Linked DNA regions of Homo sapiens: region 1 is linked to region 2. A link means that fine-mapping ties the variant in region 2 to the expression of a gene that starts in the linked region. Tissue or cell type: skeletal muscle. Region 2 holds a variant in brackets; the other region holds the start of a gene. All regions are shown on one strand. Distances are from middle to middle.

Evidence for each region. PIP is the estimated chance that this variant, and not a neighbour inherited with it, causes the effect.
Region 1: ROBO1 starts here. The variant in region 2 is fine-mapped to the expression of ROBO1 in skeletal muscle (GTEx, PIP above 0.99).

What each region holds. Positions count from the first base shown.
Region 1 is chr3:79,766,368-79,769,140 of GRCh38, reverse strand. It overlaps ROBO1 (roundabout guidance receptor 1), which reads left to right and starts at 1,143. Exons shown (of 31, transcript NM_002941.4): 1 at 1,143-1,389.
Region 2 is chr3:79,010,388-79,013,160 of GRCh38, reverse strand. The region is part of intron 3 of ROBO1 (roundabout guidance receptor 1); the gene reads left to right. Among named protein-coding and RNA genes, the nearest start is that of MIR3923, 500 kb to the left of the region's middle. The variant A/C (reference allele first, on the strand shown) is at 1,091.

The sequences.
Region 1 (2,773 bases), 760 kb before region 2:
TTTTGTAATTAAATTGGAATTTATCACAATTATTTACATCAAAGACAATAAAATTATGTTACTTCCTAAATTATAATATCAGTAAATATCGTATCTAGGATTTTGTGGAAAGTCTATGTCATTTTAGTTTAAATAAGGATTTCTCTTTTCCTCCACAAAATTAAAGGTCAAAGAAAACAGCATGTTTAAGACTTCAAATTAATATATATTAAGATTCAGCATTTAATATTCTAATTCTTAAAATAACTGGCTTTACCGATGATGAACTAAAGTGATTTTGCACACTATTACAATATTTCAAATTGCTAGTCACCACAGGTCGGCCTCACTTTAAATCTCCTTGTTATGCCAATTTGCATTACTAATGAACTTGCTAAGAGAGAAACTGTAAAAAGATAATGTAGCAATTAATAGTAAATGCTTGACATACTGTGACATTATAATACCTTTATGTTGATTTATATCTTTATGTCAATATTTACAAGGAAAATATTTTTGAATTTCTAATTTTGCGAAGTAAAAATGATGCTGACGCCATTGTCATTGATGGAATTTTTTCTGTAGCATTTGACTAATATAACCCGTGTTTTATAATTGGTAGACTCATATTTTAGCTTCTACTATCTACTACCCATGTAAGGTATTTTATTTGTAGTAGCTATGAATTGTAAATACAATTGGGTGTTGTGTGTACCTACGTGAAGTGCAGAAGTATTTGATTATATAAAATTTCCTGGATTTATATGAGAATAATGCATAATAGAGAGCAAAAGAGGGTTTTCCTGCCAAAAGTGTCTGTGTGAATTTTCCTTCGAAAATGTTCTTTTAAAATCCTTTGTATGATCAAAGCCACTCCACACAGACAATTAAAAGCAGCTATGGAATGATAGATCACATGACAGGAGTTAAATGTAAGGGTTTTTTTTTTTTTTTTTCCTCCCCCCTCGGTTAAACATCGCAGCAGGCATTACAATACCAGAGGTAACGAATCAATTAAATCCATTTTCCCCTCGGCGTCTCCAAAGCTGCGTGCCTAGTGTTGCTGTGTAGTTTAGACCGGAGCAGTAGGACCCAGGGGCCTCCGCAGCCACCAATAGAAGCGCACACTTGGACCTATTTGTATGCAATGCCTTCTGCTCTGCGCATTAATAGTAATACAGATAACGGGTTTGAAAGAATTCTCTACTGAAGAAGGATTGAATTTTTCCAGGGTGCTGATACAGAGAAGAAACCCGACTTCACTCTCTCCCTATTTCCCCACTCTTAGGTTTAAAAGTCTGTCACCTTTCGCTTGGTTTAAACTCGGAAAGGTCTCAGTGCACAGCAAAGTTGCAGGGCTGCGTCTGCACTACGGAGCCTCTAGATTGCTGAAAACAGTCTTATGGAAGGGTAAGTCTCGGAAATGGTTGCAAGGGAAGTGACAGCTGGCTTTTGATTTGTAAAAGGGGACACGCTGGGTTTTACACTAGTGGTTGTTGGAGTGCAGAATGGTTGCCGAGAGGACTCTGCAGTTTATCCAGAAATTGTGGCTGATGCGCCAGGGTGTTTTGGGGTAGAATCAAAAACCTTCAGGCTAAATCGGAAATTGCAGCCTTGCGATCGGGAGGGATTCAACAAGTTTTCCTGCAGGGATGCGATGTTTGTTTCTTCCTTGCCAGTTGTGCAGAGTGTCCGTTCCAGGTAGGCTGCGGCTGCTTAACAAAGAAGTTTTGGAATTTGTTTGTTGTGTGTGTGGCTGGGCTAACCCTTGTTGGAGTAGGTTTCGTGCCGCTTTTGGCTTCTTGGGGGCACACAGCGGAATTTGCTCTAGGGATGCGGCGAGCATCAGCGGTGTAGTGGGCTGGGGCCGGGCAACTTTGCAGCCTAATCTCAGTGCCGCTGACCGCACCGTTGTTCGTGATGTGAGCTGACTGAGGCATAGACACGGGCAGGCTGCAGGGAGCTTCCAAACTTTGAAAGCATTCTCCAGGAATGGATGCGCGTGGGGGCTTTGAAAATAAGCGTTACTAGGTGGATTTTGGTAAACTCTTGGCGGTATGTAGGCAGTGGGGACTTTTGACACTTGCATTTCCAACCTGCAGGATTTTGCTTGAAAACATGGTGCTGATGTGAAGACGAGAGCTTAAAGCTAAGCCAGCGGGGACTTTGAGGGAGGAAATGAGGGAGGGAAGGAGGAAGAATGAGAGAAGACAGATGAATGAAAAAGGTGCGTCCCATCTTTCACACACAAAAACCACACGAGTGGGACGAACCAGGAAGCGCTCCAGTTGGTGGCGTTTAGCTGGAAAACGTATTGCAGGGAGGTCCAGGAGCCTCTGCATTATTGATGAAACGCCGTGCCCTTCTGGGGCCCCTTCTTGCTCCTTCTCCCTGCCCCATCTTGCCAGCCCCGCTTCCATGAGCCTTCGGTTCCAGCGTTGGCGCGGGTGCGGCTGCGCGCGCGGCTGGGTCCCACAGCTCTGAGAACACAATGGGGAGAAGCAGGCGAGCCCTGCGGGCGGCCGATGCGGAAAACTCGGCGTGGCAACCCCACTGCTGCAGCCTGGGCTGCCGCTCCACCCGGGGCAGCGGCGCTGCAGAGACGGCTTCTGCCCAGTTGCCACGCGCCCTGAGGTCTCGGAGGACCGCGTGGAGGGCGCTCACACCTGGCCGCTAAAATCCTGGGATACCCTTCTAGGAGTCACTGTGTCCCACGCAGATGGGTGGGGTGGGGGAGACGGAATGCTAAGACATCCCACTCCTGCCTCGAGTCGGAGCTCCCACTACTCAAATA
Region 2 (2,773 bases):
GTGGTTGCTCTTAGGCTCTGGGTTGAGTATGGGCTGGTGATCATTTAGTAGATGAGCCTTCTGCTTGACTGCTGTTCACAGATAACTCACTTCATGGTTACTGATCATGGAAGGGTTGAGCCTTAATACCTGGTTGATCAGCTGGTTGGAAACTGCTTATGCATAGCCAATAAAGTTGCCATCCTGTGGAGATCAAAAGGCTACCTCCATTCTTTACAATTCTTGATTAGCATGATTTCCTTTCCCCTTCTCCCTCCACTTTCAGCCCCTTCCTTCAATCTTGCTGTTGAAGAAGAGGAAGAAAAAAAGATGATCTGTAGTGTACAGGGAGATAGCTTTGATCTCCACTGCTTTGCTTTTTCCTCTCTCTTTTTTAACCATCCAAAAGGCTATTTCTAACACCGAAAGGTGTCATGTTGCTTGCTTCATGGGAGAGCTCAGCCTCATTTCCCTTCAGCCAAAACAGGCTGCTACAAATCCTCTTACTTCTGTGATTTTACTTGGCTTCCAAATGTCTTATGACAGTGTTATTCCACACATAAAATAATATTTTGAACAGCATGACTGTGCATATCTTTCTGACTTTATTCAAAGAGAGAAGTACCTCTGTGGCGTTCACAGCTGTCCATGGCTTAGAGCCGGAAAATAATATTCTGTTTATTTTGTTTAATTAATTCATATTATTTTGAGGGGAAAGTGGATAGAAGGTAAGCAATTGTAGAAAATGTTCTAGGGTCACAAGATGAGACTAAATAGTCTATCTGGGCTTAATGCTTGTCACCTAGTTTGACACTTAAATGAAGCGTTAAAAGCACCATCAAAGGATACAAGCAAATGTCAACAGAGCAGTGTGGTTCTGTGTTAAGTGGGAATATAGTCTTTTTGTGTCAAGTGATTGCTTTGTATGCAGCATATAGGAAATAGTCGGTTTTGGTTCCTAATAATACAGTATTTTGGGGATCTATTTTTCAAATCATGTTAGTCTTTCAGTTAAGTAGAGCAAGGTTTACTAGAAAACATTTTTAAGCTACTTCTGGCAATAACAGCTCACAGTTAAAACACTTTCTCAAGATGCTCTTGGTTAGATTTC[A/C]GAAAGTATCAAGTTCAAAGTATGTCTAAATTCAACTCATGTGTACAGGACCTGAGAGCTGGGGACAGCTTGTCCACAGTCAGCCATGAAAGGAGCGTGGAGTCCTCAAAGCTCTCCTCTAAGATTATTTGCAGTGTTCTGCTTGAAACACAGTTCGTATGCCCAGTTTGTATAGAAAGTAAAAGAGCAAAAAAAATTGTTATGTATGACTAGTAAGTTCTTGAAAAGCCATTTCAGGTATATGTTATCTCTTGATTTAACTTACAATTTCAATGAGCATAACAAGATAGTATTCATATGACATAAAAGTCTTTGGATCATGTTAGGTATGGTCATAATTTATGCAACATTATGAAAACATATATATAATATATTATGAAAAACATATATATTTATATATAAATATATATAAAACATTATGAAAAAAATATATATAAAACACCAACTTGCTAAGTTCATTCCTGGGTTTTGGTAGAAGGCTAGATTTTAGCTTCTCTGCACTAACGTGATTGAAGCCCTTTTATGTTATTAGCAATTTCAGGTAGAGTAGGAAAAGAACATGAAGCCAAAGAATGAATGAATCAGGTCACAAATGTCTGTTTCAATATCATTTGGCAACACAGTGCTAATGAGATACACTAAGTCTCATAATTTGATCTCCAACTTAACTTGCCTGCTGTTACATTTTCTTGTTTAGCACGTGATTTTCTTTTTTCACTAATGGTGGACTTTTAATTTGGCTAAAGAAATATATCTATCTGCAATTCCTTTCCTATACAAGAACATGTCCGCTTTTTAGTTGCATAGCTCTAAAGCTGATTTTGTATACTTAGGCTTTATTGAAAAGGAAGCCTGTCACTCTGAAACTTCACTAAAATTGTCCTTGCTCATACAACAAAGTGAGTTAAAGTACCTTTGTATGTGTTAACTACACATACCTCTGGGTAGCTTTCAACTTCTTTAGTTGCTTGGTTTGGGAAGTAATTTCAGTATATCCAGACCGTTCCATTAGCAAGTTGTCTGAGTAAAGTAAACCATCTTGTACAGGCTGTGGAAAATAAAACTCATCTGTTCATTTCCCTTGTATCTGAAGAGAAGTGAAAATTTCCTAGCAATCTGGTAGAACGACCACTTTCTAAAATGAATGAATTTAGTAATATATTTCCAAAATCTAAATCTGTAGAAGAAAAACTGGGGAGACGTAAAGCTTTCATTCAGATATCTATGCAAATAGGAGGGGCATTCACTGACAAGATCATTGCTATTAATCTCCATGAATTCAGATTGAACACAAGCATCCTAAGAACAGCTTTGATTTAAATTCAGTAGGGTGATGAAGAAAAAGAAACTCATTGTGGTATTTGATCTTTTCTCCTGTCATAGGTCATTGAATCTTAAGAGCTCATTGCTTTTTAGGAGTCTATATGTAGATATAGATAAATAAATATATGTGTTTACATGATGAAAAAACCCAAGTGACTTATTAAATGATGATCGATGTAGTAGTATAGGCCCAGTTGTATACACGGAACCTGAAACACTAGGAATCAATAATATCTCTAATAATAATGGTAATACTGATAATGCCTAAAAGTTACAGAGTGTTGTTATCTGCTTGACAAAGTGCTAACATGCCTTATCTTATTTAATACTTAAAACAATCATATTAGAAATGAATGTGTT